Linked DNA regions of Homo sapiens: all the other regions are linked to region 2. The links come from fine-mapping of genetic effects on gene expression. A gene starts in region 2. Each other region holds a variant in brackets. All regions are shown on one strand. Distances are between the middles of the regions.

Region 1 (2,760 bases), 25 kb before region 2:
AGGAGTTAAGAGGATGAGAGAAGTGGATAGATGAGGATCTACAGACCAGGAGAAAGCTATAGGTTGAATGTAGACTGGGAATTATTTGTCCTCATGGGCACTAATCAAGATCATGGCTCCTAGCATTTTGGGAGGCTGAGGCAGGTGGATTGCCTGAGGTCAAGAGTTCGAGACCAGCCTAGCCAACATAGTGAAACCCCATCTCTACTATAAATACAAAAAATTAGCTGGGCGTGGTGGCAGGCGCCTATAATCCCAGCTACTCCGGAGGCTGAGGCAGGAAAATCGCTTGAACCCAGGAGGCAGAGGTTGCAGTAAGCCGAGATCCTGCCATTGCACTCCAGCCTGGGCAACAGTGCAAGACTCCATCTCAAAAAAAAAAAAAAAAAAGATCATGGAGGTAGATACAATAAATGTGAAAGGAGCAAAGGGTCAGGGACTGATTGGAAAATTCCCTATTGGAGGTGAGAAGAGGAAGTAATCAGAATGGACCAAAATGGGTTCCCTAATAACAAGTCACCCATTGCTCCATTCAACAAGCCTTCTCTGGGTACCCACTGAGTACCAGGCACCATGCTGGGTGCTGAGCATACACAGCCCGATCCCAAGTGGCTTCACCTTCCTGAGGTGCCCAGGGCCGCCACCCCAAATCTATGTGTAGGAAACTTGGGAGGGCCCAGCTAAGCCCAGCCAGAGAAATGTGAACTAAAGATACATCTGGCTGGGAAGCTCAAAACTCGGTTATGTGTCTGTCTGTTAAGGGTGTAGGTCACGCCCTTTCCTTGGTCTGCTGTGATCCATAGGTTTATGGGTGACTTGGATGAAGTTGCAGAGGTCCAGTGCTCAGATTTGTGGATAAGCACATGTTGGGAGGAAGAGCAGAAACAGCCAGAGCTCTTGGGATAATCCTAAAAATGGTGTCCAACAGGAACAAATGACAAGTGCTCTGGCTGTGTCCTAAAACTCCAATATCGCAATCGCCAGGAGAGAAAAGGGAGGGTGGACAGGGACATGGCAGCTATCTCCTGTAAACAGATATTGGCAGAGGTGCACAGTACACAGGACTGCTTCTGTCTTCAAAGTGTTGTGGTCGCCTAGCACAGAGGCTGGTGTCCGAAGAATGTTGAATGCATGTTCTTGTGATGATTGTACAAATGAGGAAG[T/G]CACAGTAAGTTTAGAGTTGAGCGTGTGGGTTTCAAGTCTTCTCTGTAACCCATAATGATCAGCCTTCAACAAGTCAGCAATCCCCTCTGAACTTCAGTTTCCTTATGTATAAAATGGAAATAATAGGGCCAGACACGGTAGCTCACACCTGTAATCTCAGCACTTTGGGAGGCCAAGGCGGGCGGATCACTTGAGATCAGGAGTTGAGGACCAGCCTGGCCAACATAGTGAAACCCCATCTCTACCACAAATACAAAACATAGCCAGGCATGGTGGCAGGCGCCTGGAGTCCCAGCTATACTCGGGAGTCTGAGGCAGGAAAATCGCTTGAAGCCAGGAGGCGGAGGCTGCAGTGAGCTGAGATCGCACCACTGCACTCCAGCCTGGGTGGCAGAGGAAGACGCCATCTCAAAGAAAAAGAAAAGAAAAAAGGCCAGGCGCAGTGGCTCACGCCTGTAATCCCAGCACTTTGGCCAAGGCAGGTGGACCACCTGAGGTCGGGAGTTCGAAACCAGCCTGGCCAACGTGGTGAAACCCCATCTCTACTACAAATACAAAACATAGCCGGGCACAGTGGCAGGCGCCTGTAATCCCAGCTACTTGGGAGGCTGAGGCAGGAGAATCACTTGAACCCAGAGACAGAGGTTGCAGTGAGCCAAGATCGTGCCATTGAACTCCAGCCTGGGCGACAGAGAGAGACTCTGTCTCAAAAAATAAATAAATAAATAAATTTTTTAAATGGAAATAGTAATGCCCACTTTCCAAATGAGATAATGGGTATTCAACTCCACAGCCTAACAGATGTTGGGTTCTATTAATACACAGACCTTGCTTTTGACCACGTGCAGAAGCACAAAGAAGCTCTTTCAACACAGCCTGACAGAGTTGGAAGAGCAATTGCCCTCACCTTGGACGAGTAGGTGGTCTTTAGGTGGAGACCCCAGGAACAACACTCCAGGCACAGCAAGCACCAAGAGCAAAGGGCGTGGAGGCGGGAGATCACTCGGTGTTCTGAACATTACCTGCAGGCCACGTGGCCGGGCTGTGAGCACTGAGGAAGGGCAGGAGATGAGGCCGCAGGGGCCAGCTGCAGGGTCAGGTTAATCATGGCCTTGCAGGTCATAACAAGGCTTCTGGACTTGGCACAAGTGAGTCCAAAGATTTTAAGCATGAGATTGCCTAACTGCCATGTGAAAGATTGTTGGAGATGTCCAGTCTGGAGCCCAGGGAAGCGAGGCAAAAAGCTGTGGCAGGCCGGGCACAGTGGCTCACGCCTGTAATCCCAGCACTTTGGGAGGCCAAGGCAGGCAGATCACCTGAGGTCAGGAGTTCAAGACCAGCCTGACTAACATGGAGAAATCCCATCTCTACTAAAAATACAAAATTAGCTGGGCATGGTGGCACACGCCTGTAATCCCAGATACTCGGGAGGCTGAGGCAGGAGAATCACTTGAATCCGGTAGGCAGAGGTTGCAGTGAGCTGAGATCTCGCCATTGCACTCCAGCCTGCACAACAAGAGCGAAACTCCGTCTCGAAAAAAAAAAAGAAGCTGTGGCAGTGGACCCGGTGAGAAGGGGAAAGGCCATGAAAACAGG
Region 2 (2,760 bases):
GGTCCCCTGGGCCCACTGTTCTTTCTCTATACTTTGTCTCTGTGTCTTATTTCTTTTCTCAGTCTCTTGTCCCACCTGAGGAGAAATACCCACAGGTGTGGAGGGGCTGGCCCCCTTCAACATGCAGGGCTACACCCTGGGCTGGCATGCAAGGTGCCTTCCTCATATCTCTCTCCTGTTCCTCTCCACGAAAGTGTGGCTGCAGAGTGCAGCGGGCACCTAGGTTCTAGTTCCAGCTCTGCCCCAACTCAAAAATCACTTGCGGAACATCTGCTGAACACAATTTTCTGTGACTCTTTCTGTCTCCCACCCAGGCACACCCTCCTGAGTCCTGCGGTTCCCAACCTGTAAAGCCTTCCCACCTGTCAGGTCCCACAGATACAGCAAGCCCTCCCTCTCTCAGCACATAAGAAGGCTTTAACTGGGGTCAGTGTTTCACACACCCAGAGGAAAAGCCCCTCTTCAAGCCACATCTTCCAAACCCTCAGCCAGGCCCTTCCACGCCTCCAAACCCACATACTGAGGTGATCCAAAGGCAGCGCAGGGAGAAAAGCTTGTTGACAGACCACCCACGGAGGGCTGGAACTAAACCTGCTCATGGAAAGGGCTTGCCAGGGGTTGGACACCACAGCAGGAGCCAGAGAGACTTCCCTTCTAGCCTGGCTTTGCCAAGATCTCCCTGTGCACTTGGCAGGTTTCTTTCTGGCTCCCTCTTAGGATCCAAATGCACAAATCAAGAAGCTTGAACTCAGCCAGGCGCGGTGGCTCACGCCCAGCACTTTGGGAGGCCGAGGCAGGTGTATCAACTGAGGTCAGGCGTTTGAGATCAGCCTGGCCAACATGGTGAAACCCAGTCTCTACTAAAAATGCAAAAATTAGCCAGGCGTAGTGGCGGGCCCCTGTAATCCCAGCTACTGGGGATGCTGAGGCAGCAAGAATCGCTTGCACCCGGGAGGCGGAGGTTGCAGTGAGCCGAGATCGCACCACTGCACTCTTGCCTGGGAGTCAGAGCGAGACTCCGTCTCAAAACAAAACAAAAAAAAACAAAAAACAAAACTCTAAGCTCTCCAGATCCCCTTGGCCATTACACTCTGCGATTCCAAAGTCCTCAACCCCTGGCATCCCACTGGTTGTCACGCTTGCGTTTTCGCATTCCAATAGGCAGCAATCGTGAGATTCTTTGGCACAAAGCAAAACTCCTCTTTGACCCAGTGAGGGAAAGGCCTTCCACCACCTGCCTTGACACTACCGTTTCCTTTCTTCCCCCGTGCTCTACCTGGCTCAGAAAGTGCGGAATATCTTAGGGCAAGGAGAGATTCTGGAGAGTTACACATCTGCTCTGCCCGCCCCATCCCCTGTCCCTCGGCGGGTCCGGCGGCTGAAAGTGCCGCTGCGAGTACCCTCAGGCCGCGCCCATCCCACTACGCTCCGGCAGTCACCTGGAGCCGGAAGCGCTGCGCCGCCCTGTCCATGTTCTCCAGGCCCGCTCGCTGCCTCTGTCGCGCCCGGACCACCGCGCCCCGCGCCGTCCGGCGCCCGGACCAGCGCAGGGCCACGGCCGCCGCCACGAAGCAGCAGGCCAGGGCGACCCCGGAGGCGCCAGGCAGCGCGGCCCACAGCTCGTACTGCACCATGATCCCTTCAGCCTGCTGCTGCCTACCGCGACAGTTGAAGCCGCCGCACGCGCAGCCCGCCCGCTCCGCCGCAAAACCCGGACTGGATCAGCCGGGATCCCACGCCCGCCTGCGCGGGAGGGGCGGGGAAGCGCGCCAGAGCCTAGAGGCTATCAGAGGCGGCCCGCCTGGCATCGCCCCCAGCGACATCCCGCTCCCCGCCAAGCCGAGCAGGCGGGTGGGGAAGGGCGACTGTTTCTCGTGGGCGACCTCCCAAGCTTGAGTTTAGCACCGGTTGGGCACCACAGCCCCGGCCGTCCTCTGCCCCCTGCACCCCAGAGCCCCAAATGCTGAAGACTGCGCCCCAGCCGGAGCCCCATGCCAGACATGCCAGCTGTTAGATATGAGTTCTAAATTTATCTTAAAAGAATCAATATGTCAGTATCTTCAATTCTTTGCCTTCTACTTTTAAACTTAACTTCCTCATAAAGCAACATTTTTCGATTACCTGCTCCTCCCTCACTCATTCTTCACCGTGGTTCATTCCGATTTCCTGCTCTGCGGTAACCATTTTTCCCGCCAAACCACTCACCCCCTCACTGTCTTTAAATTAGCCAATCGGAATTAGTTTAGCCTATAGGTCTAACCCTAGCCAACAGGGGAAGGACACAGCATCAGGAATCACGTGGGTCAGGCATAAGAACCACCTTCCCCTCCCTTGTCCAGGTGTGCGCTCACCTTTGCTCCGTCTGTGAGGGCGCACCCTTCTATAGAAGTAAATTGCCTTGCTGAGAAGAAAAAAAAGAAAATTTTATATTCGAGTGCTATTTCTTTTGCGGCACTGGGGGGAAACTTTATTTATAACAATTTGGGGGCTTGCTCGTGATTACATTCCCCTTCAGGGGCAGTCTCTGGTTCTCTCTCCTGAGGAGGTATGCCCCACCCTCTTGTGATGGCCTCAGGGGTGAGAAATCAGGACTCACCCAGTGCAAGAAATAACCTGAGCTCTCAGCAATGTGAAAAGAAACCAGCAGGCAACCTAGGGTAAAGCATCCTCACACACTGCAGAGACAACTCTGTGCACAGACAAAGGAAGAAGCCGAGGGAGCCGGTAAGGTACTTCCTTGGTGGTCAAATTCTGGAGGGC
Region 3 (2,760 bases), 910 kb after region 2:
GATGGTCTCGATCTCCTGACCTCGTGATCCGCCCACCTCGGCCTCCCAAAGTGCTGGGATTACAGGCGTGAGCCACCAGGCCCGGCCGCTTATTTACTTTATATATCTTAGAGACCTTTCCAGATCAGTACATAGAGAGCTTCCTCATTCTTTTTTTTTGGTTATATATATTATTATTTTTTTGAGACAGAATCTCACTTCATCACCCAGGCTGGAGTGCAGTGGTGCGATCTCAGCTCACTGCAACCTCCATTTCCCGGGTTCAAGTGATTCTCCTGCCTCAGCCTCCTGAGTAGCTGGGATTACAGGTGTGCACCACCACACCTGGCTAATTTTTGTATTTTTAGTAAAGACGGGGTTTAACCATGTTGGTCAGGCTAGTCTCGAACTCCTGACCTCAGGTGATCCACCCACCTTGGCCTCCCAAAGTGCTGGGATTACAAGTGTGAGCCACTGTGGCCTATATATATATTATTTATTTATTCATTTATTATTATTATTATTTTCTTTTTAATCACCTGCATAGTATTCCATTGAATGGATGTATCATAATTTATTTAACTAATTCCTTATAATGGACATTTATGTTTCCAGTGTTTTGATATTATAAACAATGCTGTAAAAAGGGCCTTTGAATGTGTCATTTTATATGTGTGCAAGGATATTTGTGGGATAAATTCACAGAAGTGAGATTTCTTTTTTTTTTTTTTTTGGAGACTGAGTTTTGCTCTGTTGCCCACACTGGAGTGCAGTGGCGCAATCTTGGCTCACTGCAACCTCCACCTCCTAGGTTCAAGCAATTCTTCTGCCTCAGCCTCCTGAGTAGCTGGGACTACAGGTGTGTGCCACCACGCCCAGCTAATTTTTATATTTTAATAGAGATGGGGTTTCACCCTATTGGCCAGGCTGATCTCGAACTCCTGACCTTGTGATCCGCCCACCTCGGCCTCCCAAAGTGCTGGGATTACAGGTGTGAGCCACCATGCCCGGCCCTCAGTCTTTTCTTTTATAGCTTTTGGATATTGAGTAAAAAAGATAGAAGAGCCTGACTGGGCGTGGTGGCTCACGCCTATAATCCCAGCACTTTTTGGGAGGCTGAGGCGGGTGGATCACCTGAGGTCAGGAGTTCGAGACCAGCTGACCAACATGGTGAAATCACGTCTCTACTAAAAATACAAAAATTAGCCGGGTGTGGTGGCATGCGCCTGTAGTTCCAGCTACTCGGGAGGCTGAGACAGGAGAATGGCTTGAACCAGGGAGATGGAGGTTGCAGTGAGCCGAGATCTATCTTGCCACTGCACTCTGGCCTGGGCAACAGAGTGAGACTCCATCTCAAAAAAAAAAAAAAAAAAAAAAAGAAGGGCCTTCTGCATTTCAGTCCTTTATTTTTTTAATCT[A/C]TCCGATGGGAACAAGAAAACAATTATTGTGAAGATCAAAATGCTCTGTGAACTGTAAACTGTAAATCATTATACAGATTAAATATGGTGTTATTTATTAATTTGTCTTTGGAACAAGTGTGGAGGCTATTCTCTCTTCCTCTGAATTAAATAAAATAGAATAATATAATTTTTTGGGGGGGCTGGGCGTGGTGGCGCATGCCTGTAACAGCTGCTTTGGAGGGTAAGGCAGGAGAATTGCTTGAACACAGGAGGCAGAGGTTGCAGTGAGTCGAGATTGAGCCATTGCACTCCAACCTGGGCAACAAGAGCAAAAACTCCGTCTCCAAAAAAAAAAAATTTTTTTTTTCTTTCTGCAGTATGGAAAACTAGGGTGGTATTGATCTTGTGGTCAGTGTTTTCCTTGGACAATTTCATGGAATCTTCTTCACAATGACTTCCACAATGATTTCACTATGGAAATCATAAAGTATTTTTTATACTTAGTCCTATTATTCTTTGTATTAGGTGTAACTAGAATCTGACTAAAAGTTCTCAACATTTGTTTCACTTTCACATTACATAGTATTTACTTTGGGTTTTGTATTGCTACTGTTTGTTAGGAATTTGTATTTTGGAAGGATGTTAAAAATTTTTTTGGCGATTATAAAAGTAATGCATATTCATTAAGGAAGAATTGGAAAATAGAGATTTTAAAGGAGAAGATACACATTATTCATAATTTGCCCATGATTCAAAAAGTTAAAAACAGGCTGGGTATGGTTGCTCACCCCTGTAATCCCAGCACTTTGGGAGGCTGAGACAGGCGGATTATGTGAGGTCAGGAGTTTGAGACCAGCCTGGCCAATACGGTGAAACCCCGTCTCTACTAAAAATACAAAAATTAGCTGGGCATGGTGGTGTGCATCTGTAATCCTAGCTACTCAGGAGGCTGAGGCAGGAGAATTGCTTGAACCCAGGAGGCAGAGGTTGCAGTGAGCTGAGATTGTGCCACTGCTCTCCAGCCTGAGCGGGCCACACAGTGAGACTCTGTCTCAAAAAAAAAAAAAAAAGTTAAAAACCATTGTTAACATTTTGGACTGTATCCTCTCAGAATTATTTGTCTGTGTATGTCTATATTGTCGTCACCATCTCTCCAGGATTTGGCATAGTGCCTGGCCCGTAAGAGGTGCTAAATAAATATATGTTGGCTGAGTGAATGAAAGAAGGAGTATGTTTTTTACATTGAAAATGTGGAATCTCGATGTCCTATTTATTTTGCTTTTTCTCCACTGTACATTTTGACTCAATATTGTAGTATTATACTTTGTATTGCCATAGTTTGAAGGTAAGTTTGAGTCCAAGCCCTTAGCTTGAACTAAAA

What was found. PIP is the estimated chance that this variant, and not a neighbour inherited with it, causes the effect.
Region 1: its variant is fine-mapped to the expression of FAAH in esophagus mucosa (GTEx, PIP 0.92).
Region 3: its variant is fine-mapped to the expression of FAAH in whole blood (GTEx, PIP above 0.99). The same link has a PIP of 0.9 or more in cerebral cortex, fibroblasts, left ventricle, lung, subcutaneous fat and tibial artery.

What each region holds. Positions count from the first base shown.
Region 1 is chr1:46,418,672-46,421,431 of GRCh38, reverse strand. No RefSeq gene overlaps it. Among named protein-coding and RNA genes, the nearest start is that of FAAH, 26 kb to the right of the region's middle. RefSeq lists an enhancer at 1,176-1,225. The variant T/G (reference allele first, on the strand shown) is at 1,164.
Region 2 is chr1:46,393,223-46,395,982 of GRCh38, reverse strand. FAAH (fatty acid amide hydrolase) reads right to left here and starts at 1,666. Exons shown (of 15, transcript NM_001441.3): 1 at 1,440-1,666. The coding sequence starts at 1,634. RefSeq lists an enhancer at 1,265-1,778.
Region 3 is chr1:45,478,411-45,481,170 of GRCh38, reverse strand. The region is part of intron 1 of TESK2 (testis associated actin remodelling kinase 2); the gene reads left to right. Among named protein-coding and RNA genes, the nearest start is that of TESK2, 11 kb to the left of the region's middle. The variant A/C (reference allele first, on the strand shown) is at 1,398.